Regions from separate parts of the Homo sapiens genome. Here region 1 is linked to region 2. The links come from fine-mapping of genetic effects on gene expression. Tissue or cell type: whole blood. Region 2 holds a variant in brackets; the other region holds the start of a gene. All regions are shown on one strand. Distances are from middle to middle.

Region 1 (8,107 bases), 120 kb after region 2:
TTTAGACATGTTTTGTTTTGATTTGTGAAAGGCTTTTCAGGGAGCAGAATCTCATTAATCATAATTAAATAGTACACCTTCATTTAGCTGAAGTACCCATCATGCCCCAGGCACTATGGTTGGTGCTAGAGACACAGAAATAAATACACACTCCCTGCAGAAAGCTTACAATTTAATGGGGGAAGATAGATAAACCAATAGTTGATACAGTCTGACAAATGCCATGGTAGAAGTATCGATCACAAATTGTGATAAAGGTTTATCTTATACTGTGAATTGTGGTTAAACTAGTCTTTTTCTCCCCCAGAGTCTTTCTTTAGTTCATGTGGTAGTTTACATAAACTAAGTGAAGAGCCCCTGATTCCTCCTCCTCTTCCTCCTCGAAAAAAGTTTGATCATGATGCTTCAAATTCCAAGGTAATCAACAGGACTTTACTCCAACTTATTCAAAGTTGTGAATCTTCAAAATAATGCCTAGTGTTATAAAGAGTCTGTGAATTATACTTTGGCTACCATTTATGGTTTTTCAGCATTTGGGTTGTTATATTTGAAAAATACTTTTAGTTGTTTAATCCTTATAAAAACCTTTTCTAAATAAGAGGCTGGGCCGGGCGCAGTGGCTCATGCCAGGCGGGTAGATCACCTGAGATCAGGAGTTCGAGACCAGCCTGGTCAACATGATGAAACCCCATCTCTACTAAAAATACAAAAAATTAGCTGGGTGTGGTGGCGGGTGCCTGTGATTCCAGCTACTGGGGAGGCTGAGGCAGGAGAAGCGCTTGAACCTGGGAGTTGGAGGTTGCAGTGAGCCAGGATCGTGCCACTGCACTCCAGTCTGGGCAACAATTGCAAAACTCTTGTCTCAAAAAAAAAAAAAAAAAAAAAAAAGGCTGGTTGGGAGGCTGAGGCAGGCAGATCATCTGAAGTCAGGAGTTCAAGACCAGCCTGGCCAATATGGTGAAACCCTGTCTCTACTAAAAATACAAAAATTAGCCGGGCATGGTGGCGGGCACCTGTAATCCCAGCTACTCAAGAGGCTAAGGCAGGAGAATCACTTGAACCTGGGAGGTGAAGGTAGGTTGCAGTGAGCCAAGATCGCACCATTGCACTCCAGCCTGGGCGACAGAGCAAGACTCTGTCTCAAAAACTAAAAATAAAAATAAAAAAATAAAAAAGAGGCTGGAAGTACATTTTCTTTCTGGTACAGGTGGAAAAAAACTTCAGTAGTATTCCAAGTATTCTTCAAACTTTCAACTAATGCTTCTCAAAATTTTAAGGGTGCATCAGAATTACCTGAAAGGCTTGGTAAAATCAGACTGTGGAGCCACACCTCCAGAGTTTCTGATTCAGTAGTCTAGGATGGGGCCCAAGAATTTGCTTTTCTAACAAGTTCCCTACTGATGCTGATGTTGTTGGTCTCTGGATCACACTTTGAGATCTACTGCTCTAAGCCTCACTGGAGAAAGTAGCAGTAGATGCCCAGTAAGCAGAAGCTAGACATTAAAGTCCTCTAGACATCATGTCCTTTCATGTCTATAAAGCAATAAATTATTGTCACTTACCTACTATTATAATTAAAATACATAAATTTCTGAAATGTATACACAAAGCAAGATAAAGAGTTAGGACCTAAGACTTAAATTAAAACATCTCATATATAAAAATATTAAACCCAGCCCTGAATTAATCTAGGAGTACTCATAATCTGATAATTAACCCAGATTAGTTTATTTTGAGCCTCTGAATTTAACTTGACAAGTAAGAATTTTTCAGACTTAAAAATTTTTTTTTTTAATTTTTCAGAATAGAGGTATAATTTAATTACTTTTTTTTTTGAGGGAAATATGAAATCTGATGATGATCCTCCTGCTATTCCACCGAGACAGCCTCCTCCTCCAAAGGTAAAACCCAGAGTTCCTGTTCCTACTGGTGCATTTGATGGGCCTCTGCATAGTCCACCTCCGCCACCACCAAGAGATCCTCTTCCTGATACCCCTCCACCAGTTCCCCTTCGGCCTCCAGAACACTTTATAAACTGTCCATTTAATCTTCAGCCACCTCCACTGGGGCATCTTCACAGAGATTCAGACTGGCTCAGAGACATTAGTACGTGTCCAAATTCGCCAAGCACTCCTCCTAGCACACCCTCTCCAAGGGTACCGCGTCGATGCTATGTGCTCAGTTCTAGTCAGAATAATCTTGCTCATCCTCCAGCTCCCCCTGTTCCACCAAGGCAGAATTCAAGCCCTCATCTGCCAAAACTGCCACCAAAGACTTACAAACGGGAGCTTTCGCACCCCCCATTGTACAGACTGCCTTTGCTAGAAAATGCAGAAACTCCCCAATGACCTTAGCCATATGTAGTCATTGACACTGGAATGGTATTTGTAAAGTTTTTTTTTTAATTTATTCAAAAAAAGACATAGTATTTTAGTACTTTTTACAAATAATGCTCTTACAAAAATGCTACTGATCAAATAAGCTTTTAAGAATTGGAAAAATAAAAATACAAAAGTCCTTCACCATTATCCTCAGGTGATCAGTAGCATTGCCTTGTCTTGGATCCTCAGTGCTGCCAAAAGGCCAGTATAAAGAATTTATATTTGCACTGTAAACTCTGCAAAAATATGGTTTAAAGTGACATGATTGCACTGAAAAGGGATAGTGCTTTTGTGAAATTTTTCAAATTTGAGTAATAGATGCCTTTTTAAGGCAGTGAATTTACACAAATATGGGAGGGGTATATGGTGTTACTGATTTTTAAACCTCTTTGACCATCTTCTAGTTTTTACTTCTAGTTTTTACATCTAGGAGAATTGTGAATAACACCAACTGTTCTTAAACTCTTTAATGCCATGTCTTAAATGCCGGTATTTGCTGCTGAAGACAAAAATGAAAAGTAGGATGAAAATAATAGAATGGCACTGTAAGTGTTTATTATTTTGTCAAAATGTAAACAAAGACTACATAACCCAATGATGGAGGGAAAAAGGGCATGTATCTCATTCAGATGTGCCTTTTGTTTTTGCAGACTATGACGTCTTTAGCTAATGAATTGCCTATTGTTATGGAAAACAGTTAATATGCCATGTATGTACAGTTTTGTTTATATTGTATATTTAAAGATACTGCTAATAACCTATATAAATTTAAGTGACTTGAGGCCTATAATACAATCTGCTACTTTACTAATTCATAAATTCAAAAAAAATTCTATGGCATAGGAACCAACTGCCTTGCCTTCAAGACCTAGTAACTTTCTCTATAAATCTCGTGTTAACTGAAATTTTTTTTAAATATATTTTTTAGATTGGTAATATTTAAACCAGCAAATACTTAAAGCTTTATTAAACATTTTAATCAGATAAGTGAGTAAAGCTTTTATTTGCCATTTGGATGCCTTCGTTCAAAGTGATAGAGTGTTTTGCTGATAGTGCTGTAGCAGCAGTTGTAAAGTAGCCAAAAGCCACGTTGTTTATTTACTGGTTTGTGGCCTTTTACTGTGCTTTGTATCAGAGTTCTTAACAAGATTAATAAATCACCCCAGTCTTAATTTTTAAAAGACTTTTAAAATATGTGTTTTCATTATAAGGAACAAAGGGGGAGATTGTTGAGTCCTATAGACACACACACACACACACACAATTTTTTCTTCACTGTTAAATGTGAGCTGCAGGCTTCTAGCAACCACTTTTATGAATTCATACAAAAAACTAGGAGCATACTAGGAACTTGAAAAGGAAGATTGTAAGATTATAGCCATCTTTGGTAGGATCTTGGAAGCTGATTGCATTTAAGCCTTGTAACTACTATGTAAATCAAGTGTCCAACTTGGTAAACTCTGAGGTTGGCTTTGTTTTTTAAAGAGCAGATTATAATAGTTTTGTCTGGGAAAGTGATTTAAACGGCCTCTTCGTTAAGCCAAACGTGTGATTTAGGGTAGAGGGAGGCTGCCAAGCGCGTCGGGTAAGCAGGGGCCCCACGCTCGGCCCCGCCCAGGTAACGCTGCCTTCCGGGCTTTGTTAACTCGCGCGCGCTGCGTCGCCAACTCAGCGGCGGGCAGGGGGCGGAGCCGCAGGGCGGGGCGGTGCGCGTTGATGTGACGTCCCTGCGCGCGCCGCTTTCTGTTGCCGGGCGCAATGGCGGATACGCTGGAGTCCTCGCTGGAGGACCCACTGCGGAGCTTTGTGCGAGTTTTGGAGAAGCGGGATGGTACAGTGCTACGACTACAGCAGTATAGCTCCGGTGGCGTGGGTTGCGTTGTGTGGGACGCTGCCATTGTCCTTTCTAAATACCTGGAAACGCCCGAGTTTTCTGGCGACGGGGCCCACGCGCTGAGCCGGCGGTCGGTGCTGGAGCTGGGTTCGGGCACCGGGGCCGTGGGGCTCATGGCTGCTACCCTCGGGTAAGAGCTGGCGGGCGGGCGGGATGTGGGGGCGCCTTCTTGCTGGGGAAATCCGGATTACAGGCTTTCCCCCCTGTGCCTACACCTCAGTCGACGTTATTTTATAGGGCTGATGTTGTAGTCACCGATCTTGAGGAATTGCAAGACTTGCTGAAGATGAATATTAATATGAACAAGCATCTTGTCACTGGTTCTGTTCAAGCCAAGGTACTGAAATGGTTTGTATGGCCTTTCAGCTTGTTTTAAGATATTGATTTGTAGTTTGTTTTGAATTGCGTTTCATTAAAAGGATGGAAGGGGACTTTCCGGTTCTTTATAAAACAAGAGTATTTTGAATTATTAAAACAATTGAAATATTTGTTTGGCATTTTTAAGGGGGGAAGAAATAGAAGGCTTTCCTTCTCCACCCGACTTCATACTGATGGCCGACTGCATATACTATGAAGAGGTAAGTATCCAGTGAGCGAAGTCTCTTCACTTAGAAGATGAACCTTATTCCATGAATTCTAAAGCACACGTTTCTTCACATTTTAACATCTTTGAATCCGGGATTTGCCTTATAGTTGATGCAGTAAAGAGAAGATAAAAGTCACCAGGGACCATATGTATATACGCTCATCATTATCATACCGACCTGGTGAAGCATGTTGAGAAAAGTGTTATATGCATTTTACTAGAGGCTTCTGTAAAAATTTTAAAGGATTTTGCCAATTGGATGTTATGAAAAGCCAAAATCCTCTCTTTTTCCCTTGGTTGTTCCCACGGAACATGTTAACCATGACATTGAGAATTAAGTTATAAATAATTCATTGTTCTTTTCTTTAAATACCAGTTTGGGCCGGGCGCGGTGGCTCACGCCTGTAATCCCAACACTTGGGAGGTCAAGGCAGGTGGCTCACCTGAGGTCGGGAGTTCGAGACCAGCCTGACCTACATGGCAAAACCCTGTCTCTACTAAAAATACAAAATTAGCCAGGCGTGGTGGTGCATGTCTGTAATCCTAGCTATTTGGGAGTCTGAGGCAGGAGAATCGCTTGAACCTGGGAGGCGGAGGTTGCAGTGAGCCGAAATCATGCCATTGCATTCCAGCCTGGGCAACAAGAGCAAAACTCTGTCTCAAAAAAAAAAAAAAAAAAAAAAAACATCAGTTTGTATAGTGTTGTGGGCATCGATTATTTTAAAAATAATTAGCATTGAACCAAGTTAGGGTCAGATTTAACTTTTGTAGGGAAATCGTTGATTATTTAAATCCCAAATTAGATTAAATAAAATTAAACTTTTAAGAGTAAGGTTGATTCCATTTGTTTCCCATGAGAACTCCAAAATGCAGTCATCTGAATCCTTTTTCTGGAAACCAAAATCAGTACATGGTTTAGTTAACAGGAGCTTACCCAATCATTAGTTACAGAGGGGTTTTTGTTTGTTTGTTTTTGTTTTAAGATAGGGGTCTTGCTCTGTCACACATGTTGTAGTGCAGTGGAGTGATCATAGCTCACTGTAACCTCGAGCTCCTGAGGCTCAAGTAATCCTCCCATTCAGCCTCCTCAATAGCTGGGACTATAGGTGTGCACCAGCATGCTGGCTAATTTTTAAATTTTTTGTAAGGTGTTGCGGGGGGTGGTTTGTCTCTCGCTGTATTCTCCAGGCTGGTCTTCAACTCCTGCTTTCAAGCGATCTTTCCACCTCTGCCTTCCAAAGTGTTGATATTACAGGTGTGAGCCACTGCACCTAGCCTAGAGCTTTAATTACATGTGCTTTGTTGGATTGATTCAAAGATGGATAAATTGTAGGGGAGCTATAAATACCCCTGTACCTCCTCAACCTACTTTTAGAGTAGAAAAATTTTTAAATCAAAAACAAAAAATATATTCTTTTTTAAATAGTCTTTGGAGCCATTGCTGAAAACTCTAAAAGATATCAGCGGATTTGAAACTTGTATTATATGTTGTTATGAACAACGAACAATGGGGAAAAATCCAGAAATTGAGAAAAAATATTTTGAGGTAAGTATTAAGTACTCTATTATCTTTGTAGTGATTTCCCTTCAGGGGGGCTGTATGTGACTCTTCAAGTATATTATGGTAATTTTGGGTGGGGAAAACATGCTGTTTGTGTGAAGCTGAGGAAAGGATCTTCACAGCCCATGATTCTACGAAGCTCCCCTTTTTCATCTTTTCTGATACTTTATTTCATTTCTAATTAGTTGATCTATGGCTACAGAAGAATGTTAATACGGGTGCCACTCCTTTTTAAGAACAGTTTTCAGTGTTTATTAAACATGATGCTGCCTTTGGGGAACATCTCAATGATGTATGTATTACCTTTGGAGAATACGTGATAGAAATGTGCAGGTGATAAGTTGTTTTTGTTTTGAGACAGGGTTTCACCCTGTAGCCCATGCCGGAGTGCAGTGGCACAGTCAGGGCTCACTGCATCCTCAACCTCCTGGGCTCAAGTGATCCTCCTGCCTCAGTGTCACCCCCCCCCCCCCCCGCCCCCAAGTAAGTGGGACTATAGGCATGTACCACCACACCCGGCTAACTTTTTGTATTTTTTTGTAGAGATGGGGTTTTCCCATGTTGCCAAGTGATAAGTTTTTACTTCTGTGTTTTTCTCTACATATTTATGAAACCTCCAACCTAGATACCTGTCTATTTTTAGGGTCTTTTTTTTTGTTTTTTAAACTTTTTGTCTGAAATAGTTAGAAAAGACTTACAGGAAGTTGCAAAATATAGTATATAGGGTTTTATGTATCTGTCACTCTTCTTCCCCTAGTGATCACCCAAACCCTTATATGGGCACAAATCTATCACATTGTGAGTGACTCCTTTTGAGGGTACATCTATATAGGCCTGCAGTTTTGTCTGCTGGAAGGACTACTTTGGTTTAATGAGAAAGCAGGTATATGACTGCCTCAGGTAACAAATACTAAAATGTTTGTTTATTTTCATGTTTTTCTTGAATATGAAAAATGTTCATGAACTTTTGAAATGATGCATAATGAAAATTTCGTACTGTTAAACAGCTTTTATTGGGGTAAAGCATATGTAAAATGCATATGTATCAGTCAAGTGCTGAGCTTAATTTTTCATATGTATACACCCAAGTAACTACTTACCAACATAAAGATAGAGGACATTTTCAGGATCTTGGAAGGTTTGCACACTGCCCTTTCCCAGGCAATACTCAAAAGGTAACCACTGACCAGGCGCGGTGGCTCACGCCTGTAATCCCAGCACTTTGGGAGGCCGAGATGGGCAGATCATGAGGTCAGGAGTTCGAGACCAGCCTGGTCAACATGGTGAAACCCTTTCTTTACTAAAAATACAAAAATTAGCTGGGTGTGGTGTCGTTTGCCTGTAATCCCAGCTACTCAGGAGGCTGAGGCAGGAGAATCACTTGAACCCAGGGAGGTGGAGGTTGCAGTGAGCCAAGATCGCACCACTGCACTCCAGCCTGGGTGACAGAGTGAGACTCTCAAAAAAAAAGTAACCAGCATTCTGACTTCTGTCACCCACAGGTCAGTTCATATTATTGAATTTGAAGTATGTCTCTTTTAAATTTATAGCTCCTTCAGCTAGATTTTGACTTTGAAAAAATTCCTTTGGAAAAACATGATGAAGAGTATCGAAGTGAAGATATTCATATTATATACATCAGAAAGAAAAAATCGGTAAATAACATTCTCAGTTCTTCATTCTCC
Region 2 (8,107 bases):
TCCCCAAGTGTCATGGGAGGGACCCGGTAGGATGTGATTGAATCATGGGGGCGATTACTCCCATGCTGCAGTTCTCATGATAGTGAGTTCTCACAAAATCTGATGGTTTTATAAGGGCCTTTTCCCACTTTTGCTCAGCACTTCTCCTTGCTGCCGCTATGTGAAGAAGGACATGTTTGCTTCCCCTTCCACCATGATTGTAAAGTTTCCTGAGGCCTCCCCAGCCCTGTGGAATTGTGAGTTGTTTAAACCTCTTTCCTTTATAAATTACCCAGTATTGGGTATGTCTTTATTGGCAGCATGCGAACAGACCAATACGGTAAATGCAGAGAAATTATTTGAGTCAAATGCTTATATAATAAAATGCTGCATTCCTTATATATATATATATATATATATATGAGGAACCATACTTGCAGTACTATACATCCTGCACTTTTCATTTTGCAGCATATCTTAGATAATGTTCCACAGAGGCCTGGTTATTTTAAAATAACTTTATAGGTTCCACTGTATGGATTTACTATTATTTATTGAACTAGTCCCCTATTCCTACTGATGATTATTTAAACTGTTTATTTCTAGGGCGTTTTTTGTTTTGCTTTACTTCTGGTATAATAAACAACACTGCAATGAATAACCTTGTCTCTAAGTGACTTCATGTAAGAGCAAGTATATCTACAGGACATATTCCTAGAATTTGCTAGGTCAAAGAGAAACTTTGATATTATCTAGTTCCCCTTGACAGAAGTTGAAACAATTTATAGTCCTAATACACTTACAATATATTAGAATGCTTGTTTCCTCATATCTTCACCATCATAGTGTGTAATCAAACTTTTTCATCTGTGCTATTCTAATAGGTGAAAAATGATAACAGTATAACCCCCAAAAGAGAATTATCTTTTTCTCCACATCCTCAACAGCATTTGTTATTATCTGTCTTTTGGATATAGGCCATTTTAACTGGGGTGAGATGATATCTTATTGTAGTTTTGATCTGCATTTCTCTAATGATCAATGATGTTGAGCACCTTGTCATATCCCATTTGCCATTTGTATGTCTTCTTTTTTCTTTTTTTGTTTTAAATTTTTTAAAAAGTTTTTTTATAGAGATGGGGTCTCATTATGTTGCCCAGGCTCGTCTTCAATTCCTGGGCTCAAGGGATCCTCCTGCCTCGGCCTCCCAAAGTGCTGGGATTACAGGTGTTGAGCCACTGTGCCTGGCCCCTTTGTTTTTCTTATTGAATTTTAGCCTTTTAATTTGTAGGAGCTCTTTTATATTTTACTGAAATTAACTACAAAAATGAATTGCACCAGCTTGGGCAACATGGTGAGACCCTGTCTCTACCAAAAATACAAAAAATTAGCCGGGCATGGTGACACGTGCCTGTGATTCCAGCTACTCGGGAGGCTGAAGTGGGAGGATCACTTGAGCCCAGGAGGCGGAGGTTGCAGTGACCCAAGATCATGCCGCTGCACTGCAATCCAGCCTGAGTTAGAGTAAGACCCCATCTCAAACAAACAAACAAACAAACAAAAAACCCACAAAAATGAGTTGCTGCTATTTTTTCCAGTTTGTCATTTTCCTTTTGGCTTATCTGGTGATTTTTTTTGCCCTTTTTTTTTTTTTTTTTTTTTTTTTTTAAAGAGACAGGGTCTTACTGTGTTGCCCAGGCTGGTCTTCAACTCCTGGCCTCAAGCTATGCTTCTACCTCGGCCACTGGAGTTGTTGGGATTACAGGCATGTACCACCATGCCCGGCTCATACATTTATAAAAATTGAATTTATCGGTCTTTTAGATCTTGTGTCATAGTGAAAGTGTCTTTTTCCGTTCTGAGGTTATAAATGAATCATTGTATGGTTTTATTGTTTACATTTAAATCTTTGACATATCTGGAGTTTTTGCTAGTGTATTGTATAGGGTATGGATCCAACATTTTTTCTAGATAGCCCATTTGTCTGAATGAGAAACTTTTTTTTTTTTGAGACGGAGTCTTGCTCTTGTTGCCCAGGCTAGAGTGCAATGGCGTGATCTAGCTCACCACAACCTCCACCTTCCGTGTTCAAGCGATTCTCCTGACTCAGCCTCCCGTGTAGCTAAGAATTACAGGCATGCGCCACCTTGCCCAGCTAGTTTTGTTATTTTTAGTAGAGAGGGGGTTTTTCCATGTTGGTCAGGCTGGTCTCAAACTCCCGACCTCAGGTGATCCACCCGCCTCGGCCTCCCAAAGTGCTGGAATTGCAGGTGTGAGCCACCTCGCCCGGCCCTGAATGGGAAACTTTTTACTGCTGTCATTCTTGGACTATCCTCCACATGCACGTGGATCATATTTCTGTTTGCTCAGCCCAGACATCAGAACTCAGATGCCTGTAGAGACTAGGCAAGTTACATAAAAGGGTGAAGAGTGCCAGGTGGGAAGTATAGCCAACTGGAAATGGATGGCATATTTTTATAAAGAGGGCAGCCACTACCCGGTGCCTGCTGATTACTCTCTTGCACGAATGCAGTAGGTCCCAGTGTTGCCAGATCTTTGTCAAGAGAAGCTGAAAATATACATTTTTATATGAAGCCTCTTGATTTTAAAATGTTAACAATTAAATTTAAATACAGCCTTAGCTAAACAAAATATGTCTTCAGGCCTGACTTGGCCCAGAAAAGCCTTCTGATATTCCTAGCCAAGAATGAGATTTCTAACAAGTTTACTCTCCTATGAGTAAAGAGAACATACATGGTCTAGTAGTTTGACATCACAGTAGTTTATAGCTGGAGTCTGGGAACAGGAGAGAAAAGTAAGGACCCTCTATATAAGCCAAAGTCTTCGCTCTCACAGACTGAAACATTAATGGGAGAAATACAAGCATTTTACCATCCCACCTTTTATCCCAAGTACATGTGAATGGATATGGCCATTTATTAGAGGATGTTCTTGATTTAGTGGATACTTTAGTGGATTAGAAAAATAATCTTATTTTCCAACTCTGCCATTCTGATTTTGCCCAAATGAAAAAGTGGTGCATGTTTTGGGGAGAATAATTGCTCAGCTACTGATGCCGGAACTGAATTGTAGTACTGACTTATTTTTTGTACCCTGTTCGTCTTTTCCCTTTCTCACTGCTGGTGGCTAGGGACAGGGAGTAAAATATCTTCTTTACAACCTGTTAAAAGTAATGTGCTCAGCCTCTTTAGTGGGATGAAATTTGTGGTAATGAGTTACCAGAGCCTATGCCTCTTTGGATTGAAAAGCTTGTCAGGATCTTTTCTGGGTTGCTAATGAGTGTTTCCTAGACGCCGATCCAGGTTTTGTAGGACCTGAAGCCTACACAATTTGGATGACACGATTAAGAAAACAATTCGAAAATATCTTGAAAGTTTTGTAAAAACGATATGATTTTGTGAACGCACAGGGGCCCGTGCAAGTGAAGGACCTTTCAATTCAAGCTTGATCAACGTCACTGTCATCTGCCCCTTCTGACCCTACCACCAGGCTAAGGGCTTTCCACGCCTCATCTCTCGGTCCCCACACCATCACCCTAAGAAATAGTTACTGTATCTCCTAACGATATATTATATATAGTACCTACTTTGTGTAAACATACGGTACTCATGAAAACAAGCCACGTAGAGCACAAATACGTTAAATATCCTGTCCAGCCCGAATGCCCCTTTCTCTCCACGTCCCTATGCAGCCTCCCACGACGGTAGTCCTGGGGCTCCAGCGCTACAAGAGTGGCACCGAGTCCGGATTGTCTTAAGCAGGTCGAGAGGAGGGAGCATATGGGTAAAAAGCAGTCAAACTGAAGAGTCTGGAGCGGCCCCCAGCACAGTCTCGGGAAAAGCGGACTCCCCCGGGGCCCCAGGCCCCGCACCCCCGCGCCGGGCTGGCGCCTGTGCCTGCTCCGCGGCGCGCATGCTCCGTGTTAGGCCTCTTGGGCTATTCGGGATAATGAGCGCCGGGCCGAGGGGGCGGGCCGAGCCTCGGCTGCTGGGACTCAGGGCTCAGCGGCGACCCCAAGGCACTCTGCGCTGCTGCTAAAGGGGCAGCAACGGCGGCCAGCGCTGTGCGCGCCATAGCGAGGCTCGCTCGCCCGACGCGCACTCCGGGTCGGTCCCCAGAGCTCTGTGGAGGTGACTCGAGTGGGCAGGGCCGGGCGGCGCTGTCGGCTGGGAGGGCGGGGAGGAGGCGATGAGGAGACGAGCAGCCGCCGCCGCCGCCGCCGCTGCTCACCGCCCGCCGCGGCCGTAGCGGGAGTCGGGGCGGGGCTGGGCCAGCTGTACCCCTGACGGGCCGCGAACCCAGACAAAGGAGGAGGAGCCGCCCCAGAAGCGGGCCAGCGCCGCCGGGAAAGGAGGTCGCCGCCCGGGGTCGCCCGGGCTTGCGGGTCGCCGCGCTTCCTCTGCGGGCGCTGCGGGAGGCGAGGGCCGCCTCGGCGGAGGAAGCCGACCCCGGGGTCTCCGCCAGCCCGCCGGCGCCGCCTCCGAGCCGCCTCGGCCGTAGCCTCGGCCCGGGCGGGAGGCGGCGGCCGCCGGCGAGGCGAGGCGGCCCGCGCCCTGCCTGTCAGGCCACCGGCCCGGCCCGCGGGCTGCCCCCGATGCGGAGGCGCTGTCGCCGGGGCCATGCAGCAGGCGCCGCAGCCTTACGAGTTCTTCAGCGAGGAGAACAGTCCGAAATGGCGGGGACTGTTGGTCTCGGCCCTGCGGAAGGTCAGTGCTAGGGGCGGGGCGGCCGGCGGGTGGCCCGTGGCCCCCCGAGCTTCTAACGGGGAGCAGGTCGTCCCTCCCACAGGGCTCGAGTCCCCGGGGCCGAGCCGTTTCTCGTTGGCTGGCAATGGGGGGCTCACAATTGCCTGTTGCATTCTGAAGGACGTTTCTCAAGTTTTTTTTTTTTGCCTGGTCCCGGAAGGAAGGTTTTGTTATGATCATAAAACTGGATTTCATGTTGCAGTCATTTCGTCAGGCAACTTCCGCCGTTGACCA[A/G]TTTGTTGTCCTCAGGCTGGAATCGGGCAAGAGAAAGTCCCGCTGGTATTTAGACAGTTTCTAAAACAAAAGCACATTTTCAGGCCGGGTAATTACTTTTAATTAAGTTCTTTGGGAGTGTTCCCCCTAGGCGGTTTGCTTGTCAAGGGTATCCACTTATGAGGCAATGGTTTTTTGTAATATGGATGTTTCACATGTGTGAAATGTCAGTGAGTCATAATATTCTTATTCATTTTACAGTTCTCAAGGTAAATTTAAAGCGCCTTCCCACTTCCTGCAAACGGTGTCTTACCTGTTTACAAGAGATTACCCTTAGAAAATTTGGTCAGTGTCTTCAGTGTCTTCACGACCAAATTGCGATTTAGGACTTGAAATCATTTTAAGGAACAAGAAAGGGGCAACTCCTGCAAATCAGTCTTTCATGTTTGGGTGCATTGCTAGGGTGCATCTTTCCTGTAGATGGTGGCGGTCTTCCTCTGTGAATTTAGGTAGTAACCATACGATCATTTTTATAATAAATCCTTCTGTAAGATCAAGACATTTAAAGACTGTGAATAGGTGCGTGATCAGCTGTCATGCCTGTTGAGCAGGGGCTTTCTTTCTTTGCCGTTAATGCAGACTTAGTCTCTTCTGCCTTTTGTGCAAAATAACCAAGAATACATTCTAAAATAAGGAAAAAATAAAGATTAATTTAAAAGACTATACTTGGAAAATATATCCTCAGACATTAAATTTCTATAAATGAAAGGAAGTAGTGTATTTTAAAGTTAAAGACATTTTCCTCATGCGATGAGAGTTGCAGATTTTCCCTTATTTTCATAATTCTTACAAGGAAGTATTGCTTTCCTCAGGGCAAACACTAAGTCGTATCTTTTTAAAGAACCTGGCAGAAATGACTAGTGGCAGCTAGACAGTTATTCCATTGGTATACCAAGTGCTAAAGTATTAAATTGACCTTACTTCCATGTGCAGCCCAATTCTGTAAGGAGAGGGAAAGAAATGAAAAGTGTGCTGAGTGGTGAAAATGAACTCTGGCCTGAATTAAAAGCAAAGGGGGAAATGCCTAGATAGTAATTAGCCCTTTGACCACAGACAAGTGTGAGTGCAGTAATCAGGTAGGCCTATATTGTTGGCAATGTGACGCAGGTATATACCCATTTATAACTTTCTGGTAGCAAATAGTATTTGGGTGTGTGTTGCATAACTTGTTCAATAGGTAGCTTTGATTCTAATAATCCTTTATGTCCAGAAACAGATTTATGTTTTCTTTTTCTTCAAATAGAGACAGGGTTATGCTATGTTGCCCAGGCTGGTCTTGAACTTCTGGCCTCAAGCAGTCCGCCCACCTCTGCCTTCCAAACTGTTGGGATTACAGGCATAAACCACCTCGCACCAGACCCAGATTTTTTTTTTTTTTTTTCAAGTTAGGCTGGAGAAGCCAAGATTAGCATCCAATCCTAGTCCATTGCTTTGGTGCTATTACTTTGCATTTATATTGTGCTTGTTTTCCTGGAACTCAGGTGCCTTGTAGATACTATGTTATATTCCACAGTTCTAGTATGTTCTTTATGAAATAAATACATCTAAGAAAATTTGGTCTTTTGAGGTGAATTCAGAAAACATTTTCTATTAACTTACTGTTGTGATAGAATTGAAATACATACGTATGGAAAATTTTTTTATATTTTTGGAAAAATTTTGGTAAAAGTAATTAAGATTATGTCCACTTTTATGGTATTTAGGACATTGCAACTTGTAGGTCTGTAGTGCCTGCTAAGAGCTGTAGCTCTTAGGGAGCTAAAGGTTCACTCTTTCTTTGCAGGAAGTTTTAAATTCTGGTATGCATCAGCCACCTTGTCTTTGTAAAATGAGAATTTCTACCATTTTGGGGGAGTCTCTGTCTTCACATTCAGAGCATCTAGAACTTGGCATCCTTCCTCTAGCTGACCAGATCGTTACAAAGACAACTAGGATTTGATTGGAATATCTCTCTCCTTCAATTGGTGTTGCCATTGTACATGTGGTGTATTCTAGCTTCATTAATTCACTTAACCATTATTGAACACATTTTACATACTTGACATGATGCGGGATCCTAAGAGTACAAAGTTAAAATAAAGGCCCCTCCAAAGATGTATACCATCTAAACCAAAAATTCTAAAATTTGAGGTTTTGGTTTATGTAAATGAGAGCGGTTCTGAGCTCAGAGTTCAGTAAGGGGTATTTGTGTGTCTATGAAAGCAGCAATGTAGCTTACTTGGCTCTGTCAGTTTAGTCCACTTGGACATCTTGGTGGAACCTCCAAAACTGTTAGAACGTAATTTTCAGAAAGGTAAAGTCATCACTTCCATGCAAATGTAAATGAACATGTATCAATTATTTTGATTCAGCCCATTGATGAGGGAACTAGTAAGATGTTAAAGTCACTTAATATGAAAATTTGAGGAGGTATTTATAGGCAATTTAATAAGGGAATATTAAGACTGTTGGGTTACATACAGAATTAGTTAATACCCTACAAGAAACATAAAAGAGTAGGCTTTGGGTTATATTTTCCTCTGGCTAAAAATTACTTGCATCTCAGTGGGCGTGGTGGCTCACACCTGTAATCCAGCACTCTGGGAGGCTGAGGCTGGTGGATCAACTGAGTTTAGGAGTTCGTGACCAGCCTGGCCAGCATGGTGAAACCCCGTCTCTACTAAAAAATACCAAAAATTAGCTGGGTGTGGTGGTGTGTGCCTGTAATCCCAGCTGCTCAGGAGGCTGAGGCAGGAGAATCACTTGAACCTGCTAGGCAGAGGTTGCAGTGAGCCGAGATCACACCACTGCACTCCATCCTGGGCGACAGAGCGAGACTCCATCTCAAAAAAAAAAAAAAAATTACTTGCATCTCTATCTGCTGAAAAGCTGTAACTTAATCTTATAGATGTGTAAAATAGTCAGTAGAAATTAATAAAAGATTCAAGCATAGCACTGTACTGAAACACAGCCAGTATTCTTTTGCTTATTTTCCAGTTTTGGCTAGTTTTTATGAAAACTGGATATCTATGTCTATATCCATGTATATATCCATATATACCCATATATAGATCCATATATATATGTATTTGACAAAGTCACCATTGTCA

What was found. PIP is the estimated chance that this variant, and not a neighbour inherited with it, causes the effect.
Region 1: VCPKMT starts here. The variant in region 2 is fine-mapped to the expression of VCPKMT in whole blood (TOPMed, PIP 0.90).

The regions. Positions count from the first base shown.
Region 1 is chr14:50,112,585-50,120,691 of GRCh38, reverse strand. It overlaps VCPKMT (valosin containing protein lysine methyltransferase), which reads left to right and starts at 4,120. Exons shown (of 6, transcript NM_024558.3): 1 at 4,120-4,405; 2 at 4,513-4,623; 3 at 4,781-4,853; 4 at 6,288-6,407; 5 at 7,973-8,077. The coding sequence starts at 4,140. SOS2 (SOS Ras/Rho guanine nucleotide exchange factor 2) reads left to right here. Exons shown (of 23, transcript NM_006939.4): 22 at 308-417; 23 at 1,839-3,562. The coding sequence ends at 2,348. RefSeq lists an enhancer at 4,124-4,183.
Region 2 is chr14:50,227,796-50,235,902 of GRCh38, reverse strand. It overlaps SOS2 (SOS Ras/Rho guanine nucleotide exchange factor 2), which reads left to right and starts at 4,325. Exons shown (of 23, transcript NM_006939.4): 1 at 4,325-4,706. The coding sequence starts at 4,620. RefSeq lists an enhancer at 3,414-3,503 and a silencer at 3,654-4,733. The variant A/G (reference allele first, on the strand shown) is at 4,980.